Linked DNA regions of Homo sapiens. The protein of the gene in region 2 interacts with the protein of the main gene of each other region in a pairwise test. Each region holds a gene or a part of one and is shown on either strand. Other genes may lie near its edges.

Evidence for each region.
Region 1: the proteins of PDE6D (region 2) and OTP interact in binary tests that used the Homo sapiens proteins (3 or more experiments, as listed by UniProt).
Region 3: the proteins of PDE6D (region 2) and ARL15 interact in binary tests that used the Homo sapiens proteins (3 or more experiments, as listed by UniProt).
Region 4: the proteins of PDE6D (region 2) and ARL16 interact in binary tests that used the Homo sapiens proteins (3 or more experiments, as listed by UniProt).

What each region holds. Positions count from the first base shown.
Region 1 is NC_000005.10:77,627,889-77,635,984, forward strand, and holds the end of OTP (homeobox protein orthopedia), read right to left. Parts: intron 6,573-8,096; exon of another isoform or gene 4,835-6,572; intron 2,907-4,834; coding exon 2,376-2,906; 3' UTR 824-2,375; downstream 1-823. UniProt on the Homo sapiens protein: Probably involved in the differentiation of hypothalamic neuroendocrine cells.
Region 2 is NC_000002.12:231,731,636-231,737,081, reverse strand, and holds the end of PDE6D (retinal rod rhodopsin-sensitive cGMP 3',5'-cyclic phosphodiesterase subunit delta), read left to right. Parts: intron 1-4,048; coding exon 4,049-4,130; 3' UTR 4,131-4,649; downstream 4,650-5,446. UniProt on the Homo sapiens protein: Promotes the release of prenylated target proteins from cellular membranes. Modulates the activity of prenylated or palmitoylated Ras family members by regulating their subcellular location.
Region 3 is NC_000005.10:54,300,146-54,308,241, forward strand, and holds part of ARL15 (ADP-ribosylation factor-like protein 15), read right to left. Parts: intron 7,802-8,096; coding exon of another isoform or gene 7,743-7,801; intron 1-7,742.
Region 4 is NC_000017.11:81,679,702-81,688,758, forward strand, and holds ARL16 (ADP-ribosylation factor-like protein 16), read right to left. Parts: upstream 4,097-9,057; 5' UTR 4,053-4,096; coding exon 3,992-4,052; exon of another isoform or gene 3,894-3,991; coding exon 3,835-3,893; intron 3,426-3,834; coding exon 3,312-3,425; intron 2,975-3,311; exon of another isoform or gene 2,542-2,974; coding exon of another isoform or gene 2,449-2,541; coding exon 2,333-2,448; intron 2,179-2,332; coding exon 2,007-2,178; 3' UTR 1,486-2,006; downstream 1-1,485. Other genes in the region: HGS (hepatocyte growth factor-regulated tyrosine kinase substrate), read left to right, coding at 4,366-4,402, 5,904-5,988, 6,611-6,686, 7,302-7,394, 9,003-9,057. UniProt on the Homo sapiens protein: May suppress the RNA sensing activity of RIGI in a GTP-dependent.

The DNA.
Region 1 (8,096 bases), on a different chromosome or scaffold from region 2:
AAACACACCGCAAACCTTCCCCTCGGCCGACCGAAGAAACGGCATTTTTTTCCTACTCCTTTGGGGCAGTCCCCTGAGCACGTGCCTGAAGTCGAGGTTAGTACGCAGCCAGCAGGGACCCTGACAGGAAACCAGAGCAGCCCCGGGGTTGGGGGAGCCCTGGTAGGTGCTGGTCGTCCCGGACACGCCTCTTCTGGAGAAGCGCGTTTGTCCCTTACTTGGGAGGTCCCGGGTATCTGAAGCGGATCCCGGGTCTGGGGACATGAAGGGGCGCCGTGGCCTTAGGGAAGGCCCCAAAGAGGCCTAGGCCCCGGAGGAGGCAAGAGCCGCGGCCTAGCTTCCACCGCGTACCTGGGGCCAGACACGGCTGGGGCGGCGCCGGAGAGCAGAACTCCAGGCTCTGAAGGCCGAGGGTGCGAATTGTGGTCCCCTCCCACCCACGGCCTCCCCATCACGCGCACGCAGCCCGCGAGGGGCGCCCTCCGCGCCACTGCCCCAGGGACACCGTTCATCTGAGGAACTCTCGCGCCCTGCGTTTCGTGCCGACAGCGACGCTCGGAGTCCCACCTGGGAAACCTGGGTTGGCCCGGAAACCTCGGGAGGCTCAGAGCTTGCGTGAGGCGCTCGCGGCGCCCCAGCATGCCGCCCCGTCGCGGAGACCTCACCTTGCAGCCCAGAAACCGAACCCAAGCCCACTGCAGGGCGAAGGGCCCACGCGTTCCAACTGGCGCGAATATAACCATTCCCAAGACCGGCCCCTCCCCTCCCCCCACGAGACCCCTCCCGCCGTTCAAGGTCACACCAAAACCCATCATTCTCTATATCACATACTGAAAATGATTTTATTTTATCCATTTACATTTAACTTGATATAAACTTGTCCGGAAAAGTCAAATAATATGCTTTATATTAGCTCAAACATTTATTAAGAAAACCGAATTCCATAAATAAACACAGACATTAAGTTAAAACATATCACAAATTGACCAGTATGTAACAAGAATGCTTTATCTACACAAAACATCCTATTTCACATATTTGTTCATTCTTAGAAAGCGCTTCTGTTCTCTGGGTTTGGATTTGACCAGCACATGCAGAAAGAGCTGATTGTGTTTCTCTGTACAAAGTTGCAGGGTTGTAGATGTCCGAGTGCCCCCATCGGCTGCCAGCAGGTGGCCGAGGGGCACGAGGGACGACAGGACCACCACAAAACAACCAAGGGCACAGAGCAGCGAGAAGACAGAAACAGAAAAGGAAGCAAACAAACCCCAGTCCTGAAGGATCCAGAAAAGAGATGTGGCTTTTGCTTTTACAAAAGAAAATTTTGCTTACACGTTTATTTTATTCTTCCTTATAAAGACTTATCAAAATGGGTCAGATCACCTCTTCCTCGTCACATGACTGCTTTAGTCTACTCCAGCCACCCAATCCACTGTCACGTTCCTCCTGAGAAGCCTTCCCTTCTACACTCTCACACAGTTGTGCTTAAGAAAATGAAAATAAGATAAAATAAAAATAAAAGCGTTATCTTGCAAGCCAAGAGAGGGCTGCACGGATGTGACTGGGTGGACTGGGCAAGGGTAGCGTGGTGGGAGAGGAAAGAAAGACAGGAGCTTGGAGAGTACAAGGATAAATCAAATCATATCAGTTGGGCCCTCAGATGAGGCGGTTGGTAGCAATGCTTGTCCTCCTTTAAGACAAAAATCCCTAACATTGTGCTGTCCCTTGAACACGTCCGTGTGTGACCTAGGTGCACCGTGTCTGTGCGCGCGCGTGTGTAGCGTCTGAGCGTGAGCGAGAGTGCGAGTGTGTGTGTTTCTGCCCACAAACCAGTCCATTGGTGTCTGATTTCAGATCCTGAGTCGACTCCCTGGTACGTAAAATGGCGGGAAGGATACTTTTTGCCGGGCGCGGGAGGAGGGTCGCGAAGTGTGGGGAAAGAGGGGACCGGAGGGGAGGCGGCGGGCGAGGGGGGTCGTAGGCGTCGCGTCGAAGGTGTGGGTGGGAACGCCGCCCGTCAGAAGGCCAGGAGGAGGGCGCGAGCACGGCCAGCGCAAGCAGGGAGGCCAGGGTGGCGGGAAGGGTGGGCTGAGGCGCTGGAGACCGAGCCGAGGGCGCAGCTGGGTGGGAAGGGAAGAGGGGCGGCCGGGAGACGGGGGACCGCGGGCGATCGAAATCAGGCGGAGGGGAGGCCTCGCGGGCTGGGGCTTGGGGTGAGCCCGAGCGAGTGGAGGAGAGAGGCGAGGACGAAACGAGACGGGGCGAAGGCCGGGGCGGGACGGGGCAGGGCGCCGGGGTCCGGGTGCGCGCCGGAAGGGCCTCGGGGCGGCCCCCGGGGCGGTGCTGGGGGCGGAGCGGGCCGGGGCGCGGCTGCATTAAGTGAAGCTCATAGAGACTGTGTGCTCTAGCGCCTTGCGGCGGAGGGAGGCGATGCTGGTGCCCCGCCACACGTCGCTGCTGTCCGGGGAGCTGCAGAGCTGGGGCGAACCGGAGACGTTGCTGGGGCCGGGGAGGGAGGCGGGCACCATGCCGGGGAAGGCGGGCTGGTAGAGGTGCGACTGCAGCCCCGCGCCGTTGGAACCCGCCAGGCTGTTGGACAGGCCCATGGAGTTGGGCGGCGGACCGGCCGCCAGGCTGCACTGGGACAGCGACTGCGCCATGGCCTGCTGCCTGCCCAGCGCCGGCGGCAGAGGCAGCTGTGACACGCCAGGCATGGCGGCCGCCGCCCAGCGGGTGTCGTTGGCGTGGAAAGAGCACAGGCTGTCGCCCATGGCGGCGGCAGCGGCGGCGGCAGCCGACGGGAACTGAGGCAGGCCTGGCGTGGGCAGCAGTGTGCCGGGCGCACGGAACACGTTGGTCGTCTTTTTGCGCTTCTTCCACTTGGCGCGTCGGTTCTGGAACCAGACCTGGAGCGGGCGGGGCGGGAGACAGACAGGGAGCTATTAGCCGGCCCGGCGGCTGGGGAGTTGGGGCTTGAGCCCCAGAAACCCGCCTCGGATACAGCCGCTCTGCCCTGGGAGGAACAAGTGCCGTAGGCCCGACAAGCCCCCATACCCAGCCGGAGACTGTGGCTCCCCACCAACTCCTGGCAACTGGCGCCCCCTGCACCCACCAAGCGCGGAGTCCTGCGCTCCTAAGAGCTCGTGCCCCGAAGAGTTTACGCACTGTGCAAACACACCAAATGTGTGCAGTCTTCACCACGCCCCTGCACATTCTGTGCACTGCACAGATTCACAGGTCTGCAGTCAGGCATGTGTCAAAGTTCGACCCACAGGTGTACAAATGAAGATAAACGTGTACCCATGTAGCTTAATAGCATGCCTTATAACACTGATGTGCTATAGAATTTTCAGAAACGCTGGAAATTTGGAAATTGATGACAGGCTGTGGATGACATAGTTTCAAAATCGAAAGACAAAGGAAAACCCCTAACGCTACGGTTGACAGAGCGGAGAGGTTAATACAGTGATCTGCGTGGGAAAGTGAACGCCACTGAGCTACAGTGTTGTTTGGGTCACCACCATGACTTCCGATTCCTCCCATATTGCTTCGTGCTACTGCCACAACTCTCCGTGCCTCATTCCCAAACCACTCTATGGACACCTTTGTCTGGGCTGTACGAGTGGCTGGAACCTGCTGCCCCAAGAGCCTTCAACCCTATTCTTTTTTTTTTTTTTTTTTTTTTTTTGAGACGGAGTCTTGCTCTGTAGCCCAGGTTGGAGTGCAGTGGCACGATCTCGGCTCACTGCAACCTCCGCTTCCCGGGTCCCGGCTGAAGCAATTCTCCTGCCTCAGCCTCCCGAGTAGCTAGGATTACAGAAACGCGCCACCATGCCCAGATAATTTTTGTACTTTTAGTGGAGACGGGGTTTCACCATGTTGGCCAGGCTGGTCTTGAACTCCTGACCTCGTGATCCACCCGCCTCGGCCTCCCAAAGTGCTAGGATTACAGACGTGAGCCACCGCGCCAAGCCAAAGTCTATTCCTTTCAGGAACTTACCAAGGGTCCCAAGTAACAAGGCCTCCAGTTCCCTCAAGTCGCCCCCATTTCATTTATAAACTAAAAGCAAATTTTCGGACCAATATGAATTAAAGGAGGTCACATTTCACTACGAGATATATGAATCAAATTTAATTTTGCTCAGACAAACCCAAACGTCCTTTTTCAGGGAAATGAGTTTGATAAAATACACTCCAAATGAAAACAGCCTTCCTATTTTTTTTTTTTTTAACAGTGGCCCGGGAGTTACAGACCCTGTCAGGCAAATTTGCCTAGGCATGTCAAACCCTCTATCACAGAAGAAGAGTTCTGCCTGAAAGATATCACATAAGCTGCCAATCCAAGATAACTCCCATCTCCCCCTATTTGAATGTGATCTTTTTAAATGACAATAATAATAATAATAATTTGCCAGCAAGCCTGCCTGGAAGACTTGCAGTTTAAAATCTGGTCATCTGGCGTTTACTGTGCCTAAATATAAATGATGTAGGACAAGCCCAGGTACTGAGTTTCCTCTTAGAATTTGGCCAACGCAATTTGACCACGATATCCGTGGAAAAAAACGTTGTGCATCCGTTAATCTAACCTATTTAGTGTTTACTCTGCAAGCTAAAGTATCAGGGGTATGGACATACCTGCCCTCGGTCTCGGTGAGCCAGCAATGTTCAGCGGTGTGTTCATGCCCAGGCAAGCGTAGACGCACTCTACGCTTACCAGTGTGAACGGTGTTGCAGTCTAGAATACTCCCCCAGCTTGGGGCCGGCCCTCGCCTTTCTACCGTGCCTGCGCCGTCGCCTACCACTTTCTTCCTGTGGTTTCTACCCCATTTTGCAGATTGCTGCGTATCCCAGTGTCGGCGATGGATAAACAGGTCTCGTCTCTTCCCAGTTGCAGCCCGTGAGCTGGTGGCACAACGGATTAATGAGGCAACAGGGCTCTAGATGGTGAGTGGGATCAATGAGACCCAATTGAGCTGTTAGCGGTCTTAGGCGGAGAGCATCTCTCAGGAGGAAAGGAAGGCACAGCGAGAAGACCTAAGGCCGAAAGTCGCTGTGCAGCACCCACCCAAGGCTGGACTCGGGGGAGGTAGACGGGACGGTGTCTGTGACTAAACGGTTCCCACACCTTACACGCCGCACCGGGATTATGTTTTGAAAGGTGTCTTATAAAATCAAGACCGGTTCCTAACAACCTGCAAGTGCCAGTGAATCCCGAAATGTTTGTTTGAGGAGAGGGAGTGTGAGGGAAGGAGCAGAAAAAAGAAAGAGGGGGAGGATTGCCCAGTAGAATTTCAATAGAAAATGTGACTACCAGAATGGTTTCTGAATCTAGGATCTGCTCAGGCACAGGCGGAAAAGAACAGCTGTTAAAGAACTAAATATTATAGAAATAATCGGAAAATCGTGCTCAATTATGTTTGAGGGTTAGTAGTCAAATGATGGCTACAAATTTTTTTATGTTTCATGGCTTACTGGGATTGGGAAAAAAAATCTGCGTGGGGTCTGAGCACCTCCGTTCCAAGCTACGATGCATATGTTTTTTAAATGTGAATGTTTCCACTTGAAAACTAGAGCATGACGGATTAAAATGCAGGCAAAACCTAAGGGAGATTTTTAGAATGCACAGATGACAACTCCAGGAAATATATTAACCCCAGCCACGGGCCAACTTTGTACTCAGTTTGAAATGCAGCTCTTCTTGGAAAATGCTTAATACAACAGTGAGAATCTAATGGAGGTTGGAATCTAAAAATCCACTTTCATGATATCTGCTGTTACAGTAATATAGACATACTGTAAATGTATTTTAAAATATATAGCCCGTTTAATTCCCCAGCTATAAATGACTGAGAAATAGAAAAAAGAGGGAGAGAAAGAGAGAATATTACTTTTTCCCCCCTTGAAGCAAATGCTTTATGAAGATCTCATTGGAATCCAGCAAATGATTAATGTGAAGATTTTGGAGGAAATCTGGGGAGCTGTATTAAAGCCTAGATCTCAGGTTCATTTCGATCAGCCAGCCGTGAACTCTGGGCCGAATTCATTACAGTTTAATAGTGCTGGGAGAGGAAGAAAATGCAATTTCTCATTCCATTAGAAAACTAGAAAATACTCTCAGTTTGTCCCCCTATTAAGATGTGGCAGGTGACAGGGCCATTCTGGGGGACACGGTCAATGGAATTACAGCACACTATTTTTGTTCATATAAAATATTGAAAGGCAAGCCTGACTGTGCAGAAGTTATTTTACTGATTTGGTTTTTATGTAAATAAAATATTGAAAGTTAATTAATCCATGCTAGAGACTAATGATTATGCTTATTATATTGCATTTGATCACATAATTTGCATGATTCTCACATTGCTGCTTAATAAGCCATTCCAGGTTATAAATAATTCTGAAATTGGTTTCTAATAATGGCATGCTATAAAAGGAATGGTTTTATTACACTGGCCAGAAAAGAGGAGCTATATCAGACATGGAATTGGCCTCCATGTGAGTAGAGATGCTTTAATAAATACTTAAAAGTGTGATATATACCAAATAAAGATAAAAAATAAGTATATTGGATAATTTAGTCTAGAATCAAAAAGCATCTTTAAAAATATACAATTGCAATGAATTAAATGTTTAGATAATTTTTAATCAGCGCAGTGGCCCACATACTGAAAAGAATGTGTGGCAGTCTGTTAACTATAAAGAAAACTATGAAGTATTGATCATATAAGAACATAAGCCAATTACTATTTAATTTGAATTTGGTCAAGGAGCAATGGTACAGTGAATTGTGAAGTAAATACATTTTCCATAAATTATTTTTGCATTACATTACATAATGTTAATCATTTTGAAAAGTTAATTAAGAAGGTTATGTTGATCTGATTACTTTTTAAACTATGGAACATTATTTTTAAAAATATTGAAATTGCCATTCTATTAAATTGTGTCTATCAGCAGGCTCAAGCTATTATCTTTGCTTGAACATTATGCTGGAACAATTAGAGTACTTTGTCTCTTTCTTCTTGTGCATTCTTTTGTGTACTTTTTGAAAATAACTATTTCTGTTACATAGCTTATATTTTATTTCATTTACAACTTTTTCTGTTAAAAGAATAACTGTCATTAACCTTTGGAAGACCTAATAAAGTTTAATAGACCTCGTTTTCTTTTTTCATAAAATCAGTTGTTCAATTATATTTTATTTGTGATTCTAAGTTCTATTTTAATTTAAACTAATTGCCAGTATATCTAGGTTAAGACACAGCATTTTACCCTTTAAATACAGAATTAATAGATAATCTTTCTCTTAAAGGACAAAACCCCAAAATTTATGAATTTCTAACCTGCAAAATTGAACCTACAAGCAAGCACTGTCATCAGTGTTGATGGAAGTATTGAAATTGTATATTTATGTAAAGGTTTAAACTCAACTTCAGATATTTTTTAAAAGGTGAAAAATAAAAATTTTGAAGAGCATTACTAACACATGTTTACAGTTACACAATTAGTACTCTTTTGGTGTGTCGTTTTAAAAGACCATGGTCTAGGCCTTTCACTAGGAAAACCACCCAGACTTATATTGTATAAAAATGCTAATCATTATGTTAATCAACATTACTTTATTAATTTGACCATTTTAAATCCCCAATAATATTCATTTGCTATTAGAGCAGAAGCATGCGCTATCTTTTCAGTTTAGACTATCTTTAAAATGCCGAATGGAGACAGAAACATTCAACGCTGTGATTACGGACGTTCTCATTGCTTACTTCTTAGATCAAATGTAAAGTAACTAAGATCTTAAAGTTAATTTTATAAAAGTAGGTAGCACTGGTTTAACAAATTGACCAGGTTGATGACACCCAGGATATCGTACAGAAAATACCACCGTCCAAGACGGCAAAGGAAGATTTTTCAGCACCCTGGATAGCTCAAGAGTGAGTACCGGCGCTTGGAATTTCACCTCCAGGCACCTGTCCATAAAATATTTGATATGTCTTCATTCTTTCTTTTAAAAAACAAAAAAAAAAAACAAACAAAAATCTGGGATTCACTAGGCTTATACTTTTATTCACCAATTTTCAGAATAATTATAG
Region 2 (5,446 bases):
ATAGAGTAAAAGAGTATCCAAGGGTATCTAGGTTTCCAGGTTCCTGACCTTTTTCATATGAAAAAGACAGTATGATAGAGTAGAAAGAATAAAAAACTAAAAATAAAAATAAAACTTTAGATTAAACCAGATTTAAATTCCTGATTCACCCTGACTACCTGTGTCATCTTGGGCACTAATATACTTTATCTCTCTGAGCCTTAGTCTTTCATCTCTAAACACAGAAATTAATTCTGTCTTACAGAGGTGTAATGAAGATAAAATGTGATGACATGGAAGGAGACTGGCATTTAATATATATACCGAATCTATGTTAATTTGCTCCCATTCCTGACTACCGTACTTCCGGTATCTCTGTATTTTGTTTAGATCACCTTTAACAGAATCTGGCAAAGTCCTATTAATAATTCTGTTTTCGAGGATACTACTTGGTTACAGTTTTTTGGAGAATGGCTTACCATATTAATAGCTTTGGTTCCTGTTCCAAGAACAATTTGTTTGTGCTTTTTCCAAAAACACTGTCAATAACTTCCTACCTCCCATTGTCTGTGGGAAAGATGTTAGTCTCTCAAATGTTATAGTAATAGTACCTTCTAAAGAGTTAGCTGGGCGTAATGGCACACACCTGTAATCCCAGCTACTCAAGAAGCTGAGATAGGAGAATTGCTTGAACCCAGGAGGTGGAGGTTACAATGAGCCAAGATCATGTCACTGCATTCCAGCCTGGGTAGCAGACCAAGACTCTATTTCAAAAAAAAAAGAGTTAGTCCCACAGATAATTGTGTAATATTGGATCATCTCTTTCAACAGTTCCTTTATGAAAGCCATATTGAATTTGTTAAAAATTGAGGTTATTGACTTTAAGGTTTTTTGTTTTTGTTTTGGGTTTTGTTTATTTTATTTTTTTAAAAAACAGGGTCTTGCCATGTTGCCCAGGCTGGACTCCAACTCCTGGGCTCAAGTGATCTTCCTAGCTCAGCCTCCTAAGTAGGTGAGACTACAGGCATGTGCCACCATGCCTGTCTCTACTTTTTAAGTTTTTTTTTTTTTTTTTGAGACAGAGTCTCGCCCTGTCACCCAGGCTGGAGTGCAGTGGCGTGATCTCAGCTCACTGCCAGCTCCGCCTCCCAGGTTCAAGCAACTCTCCTGTCTCAGCCTCCCAAGTAGCTGGGATTACAGGCATACACCACCACACCGGTTAATTTTTTTTTTGTATTTTTAGTAGAGACAGGGTTTCACCATATTGGTCAAGCTGGTCTCGAACTCCTAACCTCGGGTGATCCACCCGCCTCAACCTCCCAAAGTGCTGGGATTACAGGCATGAGCCACCGTGCCCAGCCCCTTTTTAAAGTTTTTAATAGTTTTTTTAACAGCCAGGTGTGGTGACACTTTCCTATAATCCTAGCTACTTGGGAAGCTGAGGCGGGAGGATTGCTTGAGTCCAAGAGTTTGAGACTAGCTTGGGCAACATAGATTTTGTAAGAGGCTGGGCGCAGTGGCTCACACCTGTAATCCCAGCACTTTGGGAAGCCAAGTCGGGTGGATCACGAGGTCAGGAAATCGAGACCATCTTGGCTAACACAGTGAAACCCCATCTCTACTAAAAATACAAAAAATCAGCTGGGCATGGCGGCACACGCTTGTAGTCCCAGCTACTCGGGAGGCTGAGGCAGGAGATCACTTGAATCTGGGTGCCGGAGGTTGCAGTGAGCCGAGATCACGCCTCTGCACTCCACCCTGGGTGACAGGGCGAGACTCCACCTCAAAAAAAAAAAAAAATTGTAATAGAATTTTTTAAAGTTTTAATAGTTTTAAAAGTAGATTTTTTTTTTTTTTTTTTGATATGGAGTCTCGCTCTGTTGCCCAGGCTGGAGTGCAGTGGCAAGATCTCGGCTCACTGCAAGCTCCACCTCCCAGGTTCCCATCTTTCTCCTGCCTCAGCCTTCCGAGTAGCTGGGACTACAGGCACCCGCCACCACGCCCAGCTAATTTTTCGTATTTTTAGTAGAGACGGGGTTTCACCATGTTAGCCAGGATGGTCTCGATCTCCTGACCTCGTGATCCGCCCGCCTCGGCCTCCCAAAGTGCTGGGATTACAGACGTGAGCCACCGTGCCTGGCCTAAAAGTAGATTTTTTAATTACAGTAGTAGCTATTTTTATATCTTATCAGCCAGTCAGATTCTGAGTACCTTATTTACCTGTTTTTTGGGGTTTTTTTTTTTGTTTTTTTTTTTGAGACGGAGTCTCGCTCTGTCGCCCAGGCTGGAGTGCAGTAGCATGATCCCAGCTCACTGCAACCTCCGCCTCCCAGGTTCACGCCATTCTCCTGCCTCAGCCTCCTGAGTAGCTGAGACTACAGGCACCCGCCACCACGCCCGGCTATTTTTTTTTTTTTATATTTTTAGTACAGACGGGGTTTCACCATGTTAGCCAGGATGGTCTCGATCTCCTGACCTCATGATCTGCCCGCCTCAGCCTCCCAAAGTGCTGGGATTACAGGCATGAGCCACCATGCCCGGCCTATTTACCTGTTTTATAATTAATTACCAGCAGAAATGTATCTGCTGGTTATTAATTACCCTGGGAAAGTACAGAGTAGTTTAGGAAAGCAGGGGTTTTTTTTTTTTAGATTTTATTAAACTTCATTTGACTTCTTCTTCACGAGGCGTGATTTTTTGTTGCTGTTTTTTTTTGAGACGGTCTCGCTCTGTCTCAAACCTATCATAAGATGAAAATATCATAAGTCAAAAATGCATTTAATATCCCCATAAATCCACTATAAAGTTGAAAGATCATAAGTTGATTCATTATAAGTAGGGAACCAACTATACTTAACTTTTTATTTTTTATTTTTTTTTATTTTTTTTGAGACAGAGTCTCGCTCTGTCGCGGAGGCTGGAGTGCAGTGGCGTGATCTCGGCTCACTGCAAGCTCCGCCTCCCGGGTTCCCACCATTCTCCTGCCTCAGCCTCCCGAGTAGCTGGGACTATAGGCGCCCGCCACCACGCCTGGCTAATTTTTTTGTATTTTTAGTAGAGACAGGGTTTCACCCTGTTTAGCCAGGATGGTCTCAATCTCCTGACCTTGTGATCCGCCCACCTCGGACTCCCAAAGTGCTGGGATTACAGGCATGAGCCACCGTGCCCGGCTACTTAACTTTTTAGAACCCCCAAAAACAGTTGCCCTAAACTCAGCTCAAGTGTGATTTGGTAAGGCCATGGTCTCTCCCATTTTACAAATGGGAGCACCGAGATACCCACCAAGAAAAATGAAATTCTTCCCTCACACCTCACAATACAGGTGCATCATTTAGTGTTCTGTAGTTGTAAGTCATAGAAACAGGCTCTGGCTAATACAAGAGCTGAAAGACTAAGGGGGAGAGCTGGGCGGCTTGGAAGATGCAGATGGGCAGGAATCCCTGGATGGCTTCCTCAAGGAGAAGCTACAGGAAGGATCTTGCTCAAGAGAAAGAGTCTGATTGGCCTAAGTTACATCCTCTGTTCACCCTTTTGCCAGGTGAGTGAGGGGCCACTCACTTGGCACATGGACTGGAGGAAGGGTGGTTCCCAAATGAAGAGCAAGGTGCTGTTACCCAAAGGCAGGAAAATAGATGTGGGCCAGGCCAAAGCCCACCTTTCGACTATTGTGAGTACTGTAGGGAAGGATACTGCCCCTGAGGTCTGCAGGCTTCTATATGTAAGCCAGCCAGAGGTGTCCATGAATGCAGTATCAGAAAGTCAGTCGGATCTATAAGCACCCTGTGTGCAGAGCACTCTACTAAGGGCTTTAGAGTGTACCAAGGAGTGGAGACATGCTCTCACTTCTGATTTGTGAGCTTGACAGGGATGAATGTAACCACATAAGTTAAATGTCATGTTAGACTTGTAGCCCCATATAGACAAGGATTTTAATGTCCCCAAGCTAAGACTCTGGGTGGGTGCATGTCCATTGGCCCAGGAATCCAGATGGAAACCACTTTGTGGAAATGAAATCTTGTGCCTAACATGCTCACTCTCTTTTGCCCTCTGTTTCTCTTCTTACTTACAGTGGGAACGTTATCATAGAAACAAAGTTTTTTGACGACGATCTTCTTGTAAGCACATCCAGAGTGAGACTTTTCTATGTTTGAAAGAAGAATGTGTGTACATTTCAAGAATTTGGGTTTTTTGGAGGGAGGAGGAAACTGTTTACTTTTTTCCTCCACACGTTTGATTTTTGACACATACACCCCTAATTCCCTCAACAGCAGAACCTACCTGCAGCCACCAGGGGACCAGCTCTGTGTAGGTAACCAGATGGCTCTTTTTCCCAAGCCACCATCTTCCAGCTGACCAGACTAAACTCCCAACCCCAGACCAGGGCAGGGGACAGGTCTCAAGTCCTTCCCAGCATACACACAGGGAACAAACACATACCACAAACCGGTAACTGTACCTGTCACCCTCCTTGTCTCCTCCTTGGGCCCTACAGGCTACACATCTACCTTTGGCCCCTGGTTTTGGAAAAATTCCGTGTTCCTGACCCATGTTTAGTTTTTTCCTACCATTTCTATTTCATACATTCTCATACATTTAACTTGTAAAATAGACTGTGATATTATTACATAATGTAATTAAAAATATGAATTAAAATATTCCTACAGTCTTTAGCATGGCACTGCTTTTATCTCTCCTTTTTCTGGAAAGTGAACCTGGCTGCATAATGGAAAGAAACCAAATATAAGATCACAACTGTATTTCACTCCAGGAATGGAACTGATAGATCTTGTTCCCTAGTGCCACAGTTACTGCTTTCCAAAATTGTGCAACATACTTGAACCAAACCCATGACCTTAACATTTGTCTTTTAGACACAATCTTTAATGGTTCTTTTCCACAACATACATGCACCCTTTGTTTGTTTATTATTGTTAATTTTTTCTATTTGTTTACAGTATTCATTTGTTCAAGAAGTTTCAAGAAAGGGCAATTCTAAGTTAGTAGAGTAGGGACTCTCATATTCCTAAATGAGACTAGAAGCTACAAAATGAAAAGATCTGCATGAACCTAACTGGAGAATGATGGGAAGGCGTCTGGGCTGGGAGGAGGCTGGGAGGCCTTTAAGACTGTCGTCATTGGAAGCCAGCGTGGGAGAGAAGGGATTACAACTGGCAGTGCTTTCAGGTCCGACATAAGAGAGAACACCAAAAAGTGTTCTTACCTCTGAGCTACTAGTAGCCTTCAGTGTCTTTTTTTGTTGTTTTGTTTTGAGACAGAGTCTCACTCTTGTTGCCCAGGTTGGAGTCCAATGGCGGGATCTCAGCTCACTGCAACCTCTGCCTCCTGGGTTCAAGCAATTATCCTGCCTCAGCCTCCCGAGTAGCCCGTCACCACACCTGGCTAATTTTTTTGTAATTTTAGTAGAGACAGAGTTTCACCATGTTGGCCAGGCTGGTCTCGAACTCCT
Region 3 (8,096 bases), on a different chromosome or scaffold from region 2:
CCTTCTGCCCTTGAACCTAGCAATGCCTTTTTTACTGCCTTGATGAAAAGAACACAGTAAAAGTGACACTGAATCACTGTTGAGGATTGGGTAGAAAAGACCAGGCAGTTTCTGCCAGTTTCTCTTGGTACGTTTGCTCTGTAAGCCTTCGGCCTCAATATGAGAAGTCCAGCTATCTTGAGGCCATCACATAGAAAGACCACATGAAGAGAGATGCCCCAGGGGGCCACCCTTGTCCAGCACCCAGCTGTTGCAATGTACCCAGCTCAGATGCCAGGCATGTGTATGAAGCCTTGAGGTGACCCCACCCTCCATCTGATTACAACTTCATGAGGGATCCTGAACAATAACTGCCTAGTTGAACCCAGTCAAACCCCGATTCACGAGTAAAATACATTGTTATTGTGTTAAACTATTGTTTTAAGGTGGTTCATTACTCAGATAACCAAAACAATGCTCAAACCAAAAACCTAAGAATTATCCCTGAGATCTATTCTGTTGTCATCTTCCACATCCAATTACAAAATTCTGGCAATTCTTAAATGTTGTTAAATCCATCTACATTTATGCATCCCTCCTGCCCCTTCCTGGTTGTGAACACCATCATCTCATTTCTGGATCAGGACATCTTCCTAACTAGTCTTGCTCCAGTCTTCCCTCCCTTTCCAATCCTTCTCTGCACTGCAGACAGATCTGACCATGTCATTGCAGGCAAACTTTCAGAGTTTCCATGACCCTAGCTGGGCTCTGCAGCTTCATTTCTAGCACTGCTCCAAACCCTGCTCCAAAAACACAGAACCCCTGAAGTCCCTTGAAGTCATGGGGTTACTCACCCCCAAATTTCCGCACAGCTATTCCTTTTGCCTGGCCCTGGCCCTGCCTGTCACTGGGCCAACTTTACTCAGCTTTAATGTTGCAGATGTTAAAAGACTCCTCTGGGAAGTTCTCTTTGGCCCTGAAATCTAGGTTAGGTTGCCTTTCATGTGCTACTCTAGCCGTCTTTATTTCCCTCCAGATAGACTATGCTACTCCAAAATGTAATTGTTTATTTTTCATCGTACAGGAGCATAAGTACCTTGAGGGCAGACTAATGTCTTATTCACTCAACATTTTTTTTTAGGGAAAAAAGCAAATTTAGAAAGATAGAGCATTATGTTACAATTTTGGTAAAATTCTTAAAGCACACACAATGATACTATATATGGTTTACACCCACATGCATATATGATAAAAAGCCAAAAACATGCATGAGACTGTTACTCACTAACCTCGGGATAGTGGTCACCACTGAGAAGGGTGGAGGAGGAAGCGTGCAGGGAACAGGAGTCTTTAGTTTCATTTAAAGATCACCAGAATTTTGAAGTCAAAATGGCAAAATGTTCAATCAGGAAGGCAGGTACACAGAAGTCTGTTATATTATTTTCTGTACTTTTCTGAATGCTTAAAATAATTCATAATTAGAAATAAAACTCTGAAAGAATTATATTTCTGTTTAGCTCCTGACTCCATGTCTATACTGATTAGGAACGGGTATAGACCTCCAATGCCTCAATCAGTGGTCCTGGAGTGCCTCCAGATTGTCATTCCCTTCCCCAAGAGAAAGAGAGAGAGAGGCCAGAGCAGCAGCTCTCCTGTTGAAAAAAGAACCCAAGGGAATCCCTCTTGGAGAGACATGGACATAATTAGTGGGATAAGTCCTCAACTCTGAAAGCAGCAGTCCAGAGGTTAAAACAGTTCCCAGCAAATCTAGGTACAGAGGAACTTGATAAATGAGATTGGCTTGCAAATGCAACTTTTCAGATGGTGAGCTACTATCAAAATCATGTAGGAGTGCTTGGCTCTATGAGCCAAAGGGCAGAACACCTACCTTTATGCACACTGAAGGAGAGAGTGGGTAATCAATGAAAGCAAAATCAGTGAGCAGACTCCCGCCTCAAACACAAACCCACACAACTTTCCCAGTGGGAGCTGCACTGTCACTGAGTTCCCAGAGGGCCTCTCACAGGCAACCAGGTGACAGAAACAATCAAGTGACCCCTCAATTTCCAGAATTGTTATCTATGGTTCACACAGTCTCTCTCACTCATCCTCTCAACAATTATTAATTATAATAGTTAAGCAGCACCGAAGAATGCTCATGGCCATGGGCTTAGAATCAGACAAGCTCATACACTGATCCTGACCCTGACCCTCCACTGGTTATGCAATTCTGGGCAACACTCAACCTTTCAGAGTCTCAAGTTTCCTCTTTTCTAAGTTGCTATGTCTTTGTGGTTAACAGCACTGTTGGGAGGATTAAATTAGGTGATCCAAGGAAAACACTCAGCACTGTAAATGGTACACAGTCCTGTATTTACCAGACACTAGACTAGATTCCAGTGATAAAATGGTGATTAAGACGGTCAGGGAACCAGCAATGATGCAGGTTACAGACTCAGATGCCAGCCATGTATTTAGCGCTAGAAATCTGAACTGGCCTTATAAATTGTGCGGCCCAGTGCAAAATGAAAACGCAAAGCACCTGTTCTAAAATTAAGATTTTTTTTTTTTTTTTTTTTTTTTTTTTTCCAGGATGGGGACCAAAGAGCAGTAAACCAGGCATGGGGCTCTTCTGAACCCAGCGGTTGCATGGCTGGGAAGCCAGCCCTGCTAAAAGTAGATGTGACTTGGTACTTTACAGACACTCGGAAAATGAGGGTCAACCAGAACTGGGCTTCTTAGACTCATCCAAACACCTGGGACATTGGGACATTTGGGGAGATGACAGGGGAGAGCCACAACATAACACAGGGGGCTGCAGGATCCAAAACAAAAGCCCCTCAATAATTTAATTTGTGGGAAGTATCAGAGGAAATTCCCACTTCTTGTCACCTACAATAGTTATGAGACCTTCCCTAACAAGCTTTCCTTCTCTTTAGTCTACCTTAGAAATAAATCCTTTTATAAAGTTAATACCATCAGGAGATTTTGCCCAGCTGAAGTCCATAAGCAACAGGCTGCTTATGGCCTAGTATCTATTGGGAACAGCTGACTTCCCAGGCAGTGCGTGGCAAAAGAACATAGCACAGTCTCAGTACCTCTTCAAAAGAAATGGGGCTGGGCACAGTGGCTCACGCCTGTGATCCTAGCACTTTGGGAAGCTGAGGTAGGTGGATCATTTGAGGTCAGGAGATTGAGACCAGCCTGGGCAACATGGTGAAACCCCGTCTCTACCAAAAAATACAAAAACTAACCATACGCCTGTAGTCCCAGCTACTCAGGAGGCTTAGGTGGGATAATTGCTTGAACCCGGGAGGCAGAGGTTGCAGTGAGCTGAGATCAAGCCACTGCACTCCAGCTTGGATGACAGAGTGAGACCCTGTCAAGCAAGCAACCAAGAAAAGCAAGAAACAAACAAACAAACTGGGACTTGGGGCAGGTAGGAATGTGCCCCTGAAAGTGACACTAGGGGACTGAGTAAGGAGATCGCACCACTGCACTCCAGCCTGGATGACAGAGTGAGACCCTGTCAAAAAAAAAAAAAAAAGAAGAAGAAGAGGAGAGGAAAAAAAGAAGAAAGAGGAGGAGAGGAAAAAAAGAAGAAAAAGGAGAGGGGAGGGGAGGGGAAAGGAGGGGAAGGGAGGGAAGAAAAACGAAACAAAACAAAACTGGGGCTTGGGGCAGGTAGGAATGTGCCCCCAAAAGTGACACTAGGGGGCTGAGTAAGGAGGTTGCCTGAAAATCTATATGTGGTCACCTGGTGGAACACTAGATGCTGAAGATCACCTCAGTGGCTATGACCAGGGTATGGAGACTGTAAGGCAGGAGTTCCCAGCACACAACATAGTTCTCTTCCTAGCCAGCCTTCTCTGTAACAATCACCTGCCAGAGTCCTTGGGGACAAGGGCGCATCAGCCTGCCTGCTCATGGCCACTGCTTTCTTTAACATAGTAGTGGTCAAGGACCACTTTTCTGTACCTGTTTACTTAAGAAGCAATATACTAAAAATTTTGAGTGCATCCCAACTGCCTTAACACCAAGCTGCCTGAGCCTCTGCCTAGCACAAGGGAACTACTTGTAGGTGGAAGGCAATGAAGAGGGAGGGCCCTGGGGCCACAAGCGCAGTTCAACTACTTGCTAGCTGTGTGAACTTGAGGAAATTACACAACCTCCCTGAGCCTCAGTTTAATGCTATTACACATGCAAAGCACTTAGAACACTGGCACAGAGTAAGTGTTCAATAAATGTTAACTGATTTTGCCCTCCTGATTATAACTCATATACTTATCTCCTCTCACCCCCGACCTGAGCACTGCCCACATGCCAACAAGCATGTGGCTTTGGCATCTTTCAGAATGCAAGCCCCTGGAGGGCATGAATCAAGGTCCCTATGTGTCCTCTCCTAGGGCTCATACTGTTAGACTGGAGCCACAGAAGTTTGGGAACCAGACTTAACACCTTTGTAGAAAAGTTCCTACCTAATGGTACGGATTTGCTCAAAACATTTTTGCTATATGAACTCCATATATGGTAGATCTGTTTATTGTGCTCAGATAATTTTTATCTTATAAATTATTAAGAAAGGAATATTTAATATGACTGCCTAATCCACTCGACATTTAGACTAAAAAGTGACCTACATTATCACTTTAAAGTTAGTCACAATAAATACAACTTACAATGTTCATAGATATTCAGGGTTAAAAACAACGAAACAATGTACTTTTTTTTTTATCAATAAAGAAGTTCAGTTCACAGATAACTGAACATAATATGAAATCACAAATGTACCTTCACTCCTCTTTTCAAGTAGGATCCTTTACAATTTCATAGTGCCTGTGGGCTCTACCCTTTGTAGCACATCATGGGTTTCTATTGTTGGTTAGTTAGCTGGTTTTTATCCTGCAAATGGTGACAGATTTGTGATGATCAACCCAATTCTCTCACCACATCTTCCCCACTGAGACATACATTTTTATGATGGCAGATACAGCCTATAACCAAGAAACTAAATAGGTCAAGTCCACCAGTCTATACAAAGAAATCTTATTAAACTAACCTATCAAATCTAATCTTATTAAATCCCAAACACTGGCAGGGCACGGTGGCTCACTCCTGTAATCCCAGCACTTTGGGAGGTCGAGGCAGGTGGATCACCTGAGGTCAGGAGTTTGAGACCAGCCTGGCCAACATGGTGAAACCCCGTCTCTACTAAACATACAAAAATTAGCTGGGCATGGTGGTGGGCACCTGTAATCCCAGCTACTTAGGAGGCTGAGACAGGAGAATCACCCCATTGCACTCCAGCCTGCATGACAAGAGCAAAACTCTGTCACAAAAAAAAAATAAATAAATAAAAAATCCCCAACACGGTACAGTAGTTTCCCCTCATCCATGGGGGATATATTCCAAGTCCCAGTGGATACCTAAAACCACAGATAGTACTGAGCTATCATAGAACTAACTAACATAGCACAGAGCACACTATATTTTTTCCTATACACACACACCTATGATAAAGTTTAATGTGTAAATTAGGCATAGTAAGTGATTAATAATAACTAATAATAAAAGTGAACAATGATAACAATATACAGTAATAAAAGTTATATGAATGTGGTCTCTCTCTCTCTTAAAATATCTTATTGTACTTTACTCACTTATTTTGAGACCTCGGTGGACCATGGTTAACTGAAACCTTGAAAAGTAAAACCGTGGATGGGAGGGTGGAGGCTACTATAAACAAATGCAATGAATATTAATTGACAATTAGCATCCAAGACTAATCAACCATTTTTACTTGTCACATTTTCAAGTCTAAGTTTATATTTTAGTTCACAATAAAACACACAAAATGAGAGAAATGTACTAGAAAGCAAAGAAGCACATCAGAAGCTACCCCCTCCCCTATGTGCCTTACTTAACCTGTCCTGCCACAGGTTCCTCTAGAGCCACACGACTGCCAGTCCTGCAGTCAAGGAGGATATTACAGCTGAGGGTTCATCCCGCATGACTTTCAGGGCCATGCAGAAAGTAAGGGCTCCATAAATATTTGTTGAATAGATAAATTATTCAAATGGGTTTTATTTTCGTAGCTTTTAAAAGATTCTTAAAAGAGTCTTGTGACTTCCTGCTTGTTGATTACAACTCCCAGTATTTCCATAAATTGAGACTAGTTTAAAAGGTATTTCAATACCACTAAGCAGTAACAGTCATTCTACAGGAGGTATAAAAGTAACATCAGCAACATAATCACAATACGTTAACTTTTTTTTTTTTTTTTTGTCTTGAGACGGAGTCTCACTCTGTCGCCCAGGCTGGAGTGCAGTTGTGCGATCTCACTGCAACCTCTGCCTCCTGGGTTCAAGCGATTCTCCTGCCTCAGCCTCCCAAGTAGCTGAGATTACAGGCATGCGCCACGACACCCAGCTAATTTTTCTATTTTAAGTGGAGATGGGGTTTCTCCATGTCAGCCAGGCTGGTCTCAAACTCCTGACCTCAAGTGATCCGCCTGTCTTGCCCTCCCAAAGTCCTGGGATTACGGGCGTGAGCCACCTCGCCCAGCCACACAATACGTTAACATTTTATATTTGAAAAGCAACGTACTGTTTACAAATGGCTTTCCCTCCACTATCTCATTTAATCATCATAGGTATTACACAGAGTACAACCAATTCTACCACTGTTGTTTTGATGGCGCAGAGGGAAAAAAGGTTAATTCCAGATCAATCATCACATGAGTCAAGACAGAAAATTTTGAACTGAAAGGAATCTAGAAGTTGATCTTGTCCAACCTCCCAGGAAAACTCGAGAAATGTGTTTTTCTCTTTCATTTTAACCTGACTATTTTCTCCTACCTTATCCAAAAAGCTCTGCACATTGTGTTACTAGTTCTACCTATGAGAAGAAAGAGTAAGATGCTGGTACTGCCTGTTGGGACAGCAGCTAAATGTTTACCCAGAGACTTGGCAGATGTAAACATGGCCTTTAAACCCCATCATGGAAAGGGGAAAAGTTGTGTGCCCTTCTAGGAAGATTCACTCATCAACTGGAAAACAGAGATTTTTATGTTTAAATTGCCACCCTGGCTAAAAGGATTATATCTTGATCATCTTCAAGTTAAGAGTAAAGGATACATTCTGCATTCCCCTGAACAAAACACCTAATCCAAACAGATTTTATCTTGTCTCAGTTTAAAAACTGGTGAAAAAAAGCAGAATTTTCCTTTCCATTTCATATTCATCTGATTCAACAAATAAAATATCGGGCCCTAACTATTAATACATGCCAGAAACCAAGTCAGGCACCGCACCAGGTGATACATCTAATTGATTAGGATTAGCAAATTTCTATTCTTTCTCTCGACTGAAATCAATAAAACCCTGTCTTAAATATTAAAGTACTATCCCTGTCCCTCACCTTGACTGTCACTTCTGAGAACATTTGTTTTAAGAAATCAACAGCGACCCGAAGATCAGTAGAGCTTCTTCATCTGTTTTAATATCTCAATCTTATTAAAAGGATTAATCCTGTTAAGACAAAATAGCACCTCCACCTTTCTCTCCCTTCTTCCTTTCCACTCTCCTCCAAATAAAAAGGTTAAGTGACGACATCCAGCCCAAAGAACAATGAACAATAGATACATACACACACACAGCTCTCTCTTCCAGTTTCCAACAGGAACAACACAAGAAAGTCAAATACTGATTAAAAAGAAATGACACACACCATCATTCTTGTCAGTGCATGGAAAGGGAACTTACTCTAATCCATTCAGCAAAATCTGGAGTCAAACTTGGAATGAAAGGAGCATTTTTTTTCCCTGCAAGGTAAGTAAAAGAACTCAGGAATTTTTTAAAAATAAAATAAGATACCAGATGCAAATAAATTGATTTCTATTCCTCAGAAATAGGGCTTTTAATAAACGCCACACAGAGTATGCATAAGCAAGCAAGTCAATCCGAAAGACAGGAAGAGAAAAATAATGTGTGGCACATCATTTTCTCTGAAAGTCGACAAGCAAAAGGTGAACACAAAAAGGCTACCTCGGGAGGGCTAGTTTTTTGTTTTGAGATGGTTTTTCTGTTTGTTTCCATCCAGTTTAATGCTAAAGAATT
Region 4 (9,057 bases), on a different chromosome or scaffold from region 2:
GGCGAGAGTGAGACTCTGTCTCAAAAAAAAAAAAAAAAAAGGTGGCATCCAACAGGGCACAGGCTGTGTACAGTTGAGAGCCCATGACACACTGGAAAGCAGAGACTGGAGCCCGAGCCACCCTGAAGCACACGCCGTGCTGCGAGCTTTTCCCAGGCATCGCACATAGCCCTCCACAGGAATAAAGACCCATTTCCCCACAAGCAAAGTGCAGCAGGTTTGTGCCACGGAGGAGGGTGGTGGGTGCGAGGCTCCTTCCATGACCGAAGGAGCCTAGGCTGCCAGCTGGGAAAACATCTGTAGAAAATTCACATCTATTCTCAGGACTATAGGGTTTCTTATTCAATTGTTGTAGTCAAATGACGGCCCCTAAAAGGTGTGTCCAAATTATAACCCCTGGAACAAGCAAGAGTGACCTTGTTTGGAAAATAGGGCATTTGCAGATGTAATGAGGAATCATCCTGGATTTTCAACGACAGATGTCCTTGTAAGAGAACACAGAGGCACAGGAGAGAAGCTGCGTGAAGGTGGAGGTGGAAACAGGCTTTGCAGGCCACAGCCCAGGGGCGCCGAGGAGCACCGCAGCCACTACGCAGGCAAGGCACGGATGCTCCTTCGGAGCCTCCAGAAGGAAACTACCCTGGTGAAAGCCCAGCTTTGGACTCTGGCCTCCGGAACTAAGAGAGCAAATTTGTGTTGTTTTGGCAGCTGCAGGACACTGACCCGTCAATCAACACTCCCACAAGTGGCCATGGCTGAGAACCAAAGTCAAGGAAGGGCACTGGGGAACCATGGGAGGCACGGCCACCATTTCCTGTGCTTCATCTGAGCCCCACCTGGCACACCTGTGGGGCGTTTCACGGCAATACCTGTTCACTGAACAAGTGAACCAGTGAGAATGCTGGCTCTTGTTTTTTTTTTTTTTTTTGAGACCGAGTTTTGCTCGTCACCCACGCTGGAGTGCAATGGCGCGATCTCAGCTCACTGCAACCTCTGCCTTCTAGGTTCAAGCGATTCTCCTGCCTCAGCCTCCCGAGTAGCTGGGATTACAGGCATAAGCCACCACGCCCAGCTAATTTTTTGTATTTTTAGTAGTGACAGGGTTTCACCATGTTGGCCAGTCTGGTCTCGAACTCCTGATCTGGTGATCTGCCTGCCTCAGCCTCCCAAAGTGCTGGGATTACAGGCGTGAGCCACTGCGTCCGGCCACCAGCTTGTTTCTAACTCGAGGCCTGGCTCTTACTACCACACTCACTTCACCTGCCTCATGCCGTCTGTGGCAGATGCAGGGTCAGGGTACCAGCGGCTCAGCAGGTTGGAGGTTGTGCTACAGCAAGAGGCCAGGTTTCAGTGGCACTGTGCAGTCCATACGCCTTGGGGGCAGTCCAGCAGGTCTCCAGGAAGGAGGTGAGCCAACCCCAATAGCACCACTCTAAGATACAGAACACTCGGCCATCTGCAGGCCCTGCTCATCCAGTCTGGGGACAGGTTTTTATTTTTTTATTTCTTATATTTTTTAAGACGGAGTTTCACTCTTGTTGCCCAGGTGCAGTGCAATGGCATGATCTCGACTCACTGCAACCTCCACCTCCCAGGTTCAAGGGATTCTCCTGTCTCAGCCTCCCAAGTAGCTGAGATTACAGGCATGCACCAGCACACCCAGCTAATTTTGTATTTTTAGTAGAGACAGGGTTTCTCCATGTTGGTCAGGCTAGTCTCGAACTCCCGACCTCAGGTGATACACCCGCCTCGGCCTCTCAAAGTGCTGGGATTACAGGTGTGAGCCACCATGCCTAGCCCCTGGGGACACTTTTTTCAGAGGCCAGATGTCAACTTCCATCTCCACATGCCTCAGTTTACACATCATTGCATCTCAGCACAGAGCCCCATCATGTAGGGTTACTTTGGGTTATTCTGCCCCTGTGAGAAGAAACTATTGGCAGCAAAGCCATACTGCCCTCTGCCACCTCTCCCCAGCTCAGGCCAGCTGCGCCTCTGCCGTGCAGTCAATCGTTGGCTCTGTGGGTGGCCTGGAGCCAGGCCAGCACCCCTGCTAAGCCAGTGCCTTCACGGGCGCTGATTTCTGCCGTGGTGATGTTCTGCTTGGCACAAGCAATGATGTCTGGAAGCCTGATTAATGACTTCATCTCCTCCGTGGACATGTAACAGGGTAGGTCGCTGGAGAGAAAGAGGTGCCCCATCAGAGCAGTGGCAGCCACACACCTGCCCCGGACCCCCAGCTGCACCACCTCCCTACCGAGCCATGCTTCCGGCTGTAACCCGAGGGAGCCCCCGCCCCCGCTGTGCTCCCTCTCAGCTCAGGGACGCGTACATTTTATTGAAGAGTATCAGCACCGATGCTTCTGCAAGTTGTTCTGCAGAAAGGAGACCTAAGAGCTGCACACAGGATGCAGAGAGCTGGGTGGGGTCAGAGGCGTCCATCACAAACTGGGGAAAAAGAAAAAGACAGCAGCAATGCCCCGCTGCCAAACTTCCTCCCCTGGGCCTCACAGACCTGGCACTGGGAGAGCAAAACTGCATTTTTTAATTAATTAATTTATTTTTTGAGACGAAGTCTCGCTCCGAGTGCAGTGGCACGATCTCGGCTCACTGAAACTCCGCCTCCAGGGTTCAGGGTTCAAGTGATTCTCCTGCCTCAGCCTCCCAAGTAACTGGGACTACAGACACCCGCCACCACGCCTGGCTAATTTTTTGTACTTTTAGTAGAGACGGGGTTTCACCATGTTAGTCAGGATGGTCTCCATCTCCTGACCTCGTGATTCGCCCACCTCAGCTTCCCAAAGTGCTGGGATTACAGGAGTAAGCCACCGCGCCCGGCCCAAAGTAGCTTTAAACAAAGCTTTGGGAACAAGCAGAAGCAGAGGGAATCGAGTTTTATGAAGACGACCTGGTGTCACTCGTCTCTGTCCTCATGTGGCCATCAGTTCTCCATACTGGTATCCGCGGCACAGGCCTTATCAAGATGAGACCAACCAGAGGTACGTATAAGTCCAACATAAACACAGACGTACCGGGGAGTGACACAGAGGGCCAAGTCTGTTCTCTGCGGAGCAGCAGCCCTGCCCTCAGCAAGCCCTCTGTGAGCTCCTACCGGGGGCCTGGGAGCGCAAGCACCAGAAACCAGACAGGGTGCCCAGCAGGAAGCAACACTAGCTAAGACCTATTTCCATGAGTAGTATAGTCACTAAATAACCCAAACCCCTTTCTACACACAGCAAGGTTGGGGACTGGACGTCACAGAAATGTAGACACACTTCCCTAAAGGAAGCCCATATAGGATTACAACCCACCAGGAGAGAACGGCAGTTTCCATAGTAACTGGACCAGATGGGGCCCATGCACCCCCCAAGCTCCCGGATGGTGATCTTTCTCTGTGCCACGATGTCAGTAAGATTGGTGCCCACCTATAGGAAAAACCACGATGCAAAAAGAACAATACAACCGCTGTCCCGTTGTGAACTCCTGAAGAGCACCGTGCCCACACCTTACACGGTGGCCTGAACCCCGCAGACCCATTCTCCCTAACGCAGGAACGGCGAGCAGGGACCGACGCCCATCAGTAGCTGGACTCGCTGTGGGGGCGACCAGCCACAGGAAGCCGTTGCGAGGGGAGAGGAAGTGCCCGTGGAGGGCGGCAGGCCCCCTCATCCCGCGCCAATTATCCTCAGCTCGGGCCGTCCCCCGCTCCCGAAGGCTGGCCTTAAGTCACGACCTGACCCGCTGCGCCTCGGCGTGCACTTAGAGGAGCCCGGAGCTCTTCGCCAAGCGCAGAACTGACCCCCCGCAACTCCACCCGCGGGGGCGGACACCTACCGTGGGCCGTGTCGGGGGCGGCTCCCCCAGGTCGCCTTTCCCATCCCGGGAGCTCACCTGTGCGAAGCGGTCAAGGACCCGAGCAGCTAAAGGGTGAGTCCCCGCCCCACTCCGGGTGCCCCCCGCGCCCCGGTCCCGTCCCCGCGCGGAAGGATATCCTGCAGCCGTTTCACCAGCAGCGTCTTCCCGACGCCCGTGGCCCCCAGCAGGAGACACATTCCGTGCTTCGCTCCACCCGGCACCCGTAGCTCGGCGCCGCGGCTCAAGGCCCGCCCACCGGCCACTCTCATTGGATAGTTCTCACCTTCGGACTTCTCATTGGTTCTTAGGGCTCATTGTTCCAAGGGCGCGTCCAATTAGCGCGCAGCGTTAGCGGGAGAGCGGAAGACCCCGCCTCCTCGCGGCTCTAGGGCCGGCGCGGTGACGTGCGCGTGCGCGCACTGGAGGGAAAAGGCGGAAGCGGAAGTCGGGGGGCGCGCCAGCTCGTAGCAGGGGAGCGCCCGCGGCGTCGGGTTTGGGCTGGAGGTCGCCATGGGGCGAGGCAGCGGCACCTTCGAGCGTCTCCTAGGTAACGCGTCCCCACCCGACGGCTCGGCCTTGGTCAGCCCGCAGCCTCCGCCCGGCGCTGAGTCAGCGCGGCCCCGAGGGCCCGAGGGGCGCGGACCGGCCGCCCTGCCCGCCTCTCCCCGGCCCGCTGTCCTCCCGGGTTCGGAGCCGCCGATCCTGGACCCTCGGCGCGGCCGTGGGGTCGGCGTCCGTCGGGCGTTGGCAAATGGGGCTCTGCGAGGGTCCGCGCAGGGCGCCAGGGGCGCTCGGCGACCTCGCTCCTCCGCGGGCCCGGGCATTCGGCCGATTTCCTCTTGACCGACGAGCACCCGGCCGAGTGGGCCACAAGGCCTGAGTCATGAAAGTGGGTGACTCAGTCGGATGTTAGGCTCGCACTTGGGCTTCTGACCCAAAACACTGGGCCTCGAAGGGTGGAGCCGGCAGTGTTCTCTCTGGGACCTTCGAGCTCTCTTGGGGGCTGCGGGTCCCAGACCCACCTTTTGTTCCCACACTGGCTTCGGGAAGTGCCTAATGGTTTAGGAAGGCGTTTTCTCACGTTTTTGGAGGTGAAAGCTGATCCTATCTGAGCCTCCTGGAATTGACGCGTTTTGGGAGGGAAACGAATGTTGATGTGCACGTGCCCAGCAGCACGTGGAAAATGCGTCTAATGTTTGGGGGTAGGAGCTTGGGTGGTCGAATGGGCTGCCCAAGCTTGCCTTTTTGTCAAGTAGGGTTTTCAAGGAGACTTCAAGTGAGACACCTTCCTTGCCAAGGGAACCAGCAAGCAGACTGAGTATCTCAGCCACACAGGTAGTTCAGTGCTTCAGGGATGAATCCAGAGGTTAACTACTGAATCAGTATAGAAAGTGGACGTGGCTTGGCTTGTTAGATCGTTTCTGTATCCGGGAAAGGCGATGTGGGCAGAGCTGGAGCTGCCCCCCCAGAGGGGCCAGTTGTTGGAGACAGCAGTGATGTGGTATGATGACAGGTATGCTGGCGAGTCCTCCTTGGAGCCCCGTTCTGCCCTTATTTCCAAAGCACTTGGCTTGGAGCAAGGGGCCTGGAGTCTACACTGCAGGCCTCTCTAGCCCTTGCCCAAGCTAAGGTCCCATTGAAACCGGGAGCATCTGGGCGAACGGGGACTCCAAGGGACGGGTGATAGGGTTCTTTGTTGAGAAGCAGCCGAGCCTGATGTTTAAGAGTGAATCAGCCTCTGTCTCTGGTGAGCTGTGTGACTCACGGCAGTGCCCTCGCCTCTCTGCTGAGTGTCTTTACCTCGCTCGCGGGTTGTGGGAGGGCTTGGACCAGCACCTGGTGTGCTCTTACGCTGTTTGCTGCTTCCCTGGGGAGGATGGCACTTCCCTGCCCATCAGCACGCTCAGGAGGATTCTGTCATGCTTTTTCATTTGGTCCAAATGTCTAAAGGGGAAGGAGAGAGTCCCCCCCAGCTGCTGCCAAGCTGGGGTGCTGCACGGGGCGTCCAGCAGGATAACCCCTCCCTTTCATGGCATTTTCTCTCTCAGACAAGGCGACCAGCCAGCTCCTGTTGGAGACAGATTGGGAGTCCATTTTGCAGATCTGCGACCTGATCCGCCAAGGGGACACACAGTGAGTTAGCGGGGCCTGTGCCCTGATGCGGAGGAGCAGCCGTGCACTAAGCTGGGCTCGCTTGGTGCCCGTTGGGTCTCCACGACGTAGCTGACCGTGTTAGGCTCTTATGTGGAGAACTGCATGGGCTACATGCTAGGATTTTTTGACATCTTGGAGGATTAAGGGGTTTTCTCTGTACAGCTTGCAGATACCTGGTTATGTTTGTATTTGCTTCGGGGTTCTCAAAGACTAAGATGGCAGACAGACTTTTTTTTTTAAGACGGGGCCTTGCTTTGTCACCCAGGCTGAAGTGCAGTGGCGTGATCTCAGCTCACTGCAGCCCCTGCCTCCCAAGCTCAAACGATCGTCCCACCTCAACCTCCTGAGTAGCTGGGACTACAGGCATTCACCATCACGCCCGGCTGATTTTTTGTATTTTGGTAGAGATGGGTTTTTGCCGTAATGCACAGGCTGGTCTCAGACTCCTGGGCTCAAGCAATCCTCCTGCCTTGGCCTCCCAAAGCACTGGGATTACAGGCGTGAGCCACTGCACCTGGCAGCAGATGAGCTTTTCTCATCTTAGTTGCTGAGACTATTTTTTTCCCGTTTTTCTCTGCTTTTATCAATGTTTCCTTTTCAGAGCAAAATATGCTGTGAATTCCATCAAGAAGAAAGTCAACGACAAGAACCCACACGTCGCCTTGTATGCCCTGGAGGTAAGCAGACCCCCGTGCCTCAGTGGCCCCCAGGGTCCCTACCCCCTACTAGTCACGACAGCATGAGAAGAGTTTGTCCTGTGGCCTTGCCCACCTCCCTGGGCATACATCAAGCAGGAGAGTTTCCACTCAGCCTTGAGTGCCTGTGTGAACAGTGCCACCTAGGAGAGGGTCACGCTGAGGGAGAGACAGGAGATAGGGGAGGGAGTGGGCACCACTTCTTCAGCCGGTCCTGCGTGAGTAAACACCAGAAGGCGGATGTCATTGCTGTGCTTGGCAGTGAGACTTGGCGTCACGGAGCGGTGCTGTGCAGGCTGCTGAGTCTCAGATGTGGGTTCCCCACTGGCCTGACGGGCCTGTTGAAGGGCTGCTGTCCCACCGGGTTCCCCACCGGCCACTGACGGGCCTGTCGAAGGGCTCTGCTGTCCCACCGGGTTCCCCTCCGGCCACTGACGGGCCTGTCGAAGGGCTCTGCTGTCCCACCGGGTTCCCCACCGGCCACTGACGGGCCTGTCGAAGGGCTCTGCTGTCCCACAGGGAGGTGGGTCTGTCCGGGAGGAGGAGGGGCCCTGCCCTGACCACTGGCCCAACCCTTCCCTTCCTGGGCATCTGCAGGTCATGGAATCTGTGGTAAAGAACTGTGGCCAGACAGTTCATGATGAGGTGGCCAACAAGCAGACCATGGAGGAGCTGAAGGACCTGCTGAAGGTGGGTGAGACGGGGGCATGCGGGTGGCCACCCAGGCTGGCACCTTTGCTTCTCCGGGTGTTTACTGGGCACTGATGACAGAACAGCACCAGGTGTGGCGGAAAATGTGCAGGTGCAGATCGGTGGTCCCTGCACTGCGCAAGCTCGCACTCATGAGTCGGAGAGACAGGGCCGTGAGCCCCAATCCAGGGAGGTCAGGGTTTAGCAGGAGCCGGCCTGGGGTGCTGTGTCTGGAGGACCAAGGTGACAGCGACCCTGGGGCCTGGGGGAAGCTTCCGGGAGGCAGGGCTTGGGCACCTGCTGTCTTAGGGAAGGTGAGTAGATGCCACTGGGTGGGCAGGGCAGGTGGTGGCTATCGTGTGTGAGAGTGGCTGTGGTCCGGAGGGCAGGCTGGCCACATCCCACAGGCAGGGGCCTGGGAGGGCTCTGAGCGGGGGCTTGTAAGATCGGATGTGTCTGGCGGGGATAAGAGCTGTTTTGGAGAGCGAGGGCTTCATGCTTTCCTGGGCAGAGGAGGAAAAGCCCTCCAGATCCCCAGGAGATTGTGCCGGGGACATCTGCAGGGATTGTGCTGGGGACACCTGCAGGGACTGTGATGTGGACTGTGATGCAGTGGGGATGCTGTTGCAGGTGTCAAGGAGAAAGAGTGTCCCATGTAGTCAGGCTGCTCCCCTTCTGTCCCAACCTGTGGGCCAGACCTGGGTCTCATAGGAGACTCCCTGGACTCACACAGCTGAGAACCTGCCCGGGGATCCCGGTGGACAGCCAGGCCTCTCAAAGGCCCTCACTGGCCACTTTGGCTGGCTTCCTGTCCCGTCCTGTCCTGGCTGAGAGGCGGAAGGTGCCGGAGTCTGGCCCTGCCCGACCCTGGTGCTCCTGAGCTCCTTCAGTCAGGCTGCAGATCCTGAGCCGGTTCGCTCCTCTGGGGTGAGGCAGGGCTGTGAAGGGAAGGCGCCGCTGAGGATGCAGAGGGGTTCTGGAAAGGAGCTTAGGCTGAGGTGCAAGTGCCCCGGAGCCTGCTTGCAGCAGCCTCTGATCGCACGCCGTCCTGCACGTCACACCGGGACGGCGTCCCCGAGAGGGCCGTAGACGCGAGGCCAGGCTGCGCTCTAACCGGGGGAGAGGATGGCTGCAGGGGGTCTGGAGCCCGCTCTGAATTTGGAGGCATTTCTGGAGCGGCTGCCCCCCGCGTCTCCCCGGCTGTGACTGGAAGGAGGGGCGTGGCCAGAGCCCCGCAGTACCCCTGTGTTCTCAGCCCCAACACCACGCTGCCACCGTCAGGCCTGCCGGGTCCTGCCTGTTGGAGGCTGACGGGAACCGGGGATCCTGGGGTGGGCAGGTCCCGTGGGGAAAGGGAGAGACAGATGGTCAGGGGCACAGAGACGCGGCGTTGTTTGGCTCCAGCAAGTAGAGGCAGGCGTGAGGTTTGAACTCAGGGTCTGGGAACAGGTTGGTGCATGGCCCCCACGCCCCACTCGGGGGGCCCTCCCTGGCCTCTGTGTCAGCCCCATCTGCTCAGAGGCTGAGGTCTGCCAGCTGCTTCCTCACACCGAGGCCTCTGGCGCCTGGAGTGTCCTGCGACCCTCACCCCCTTCTCCCTGCCTGCAGAGACAAGTGGAGGTAAACGTCCGTAACAAGATCCTGTACCTGATCCAGGCCTGGG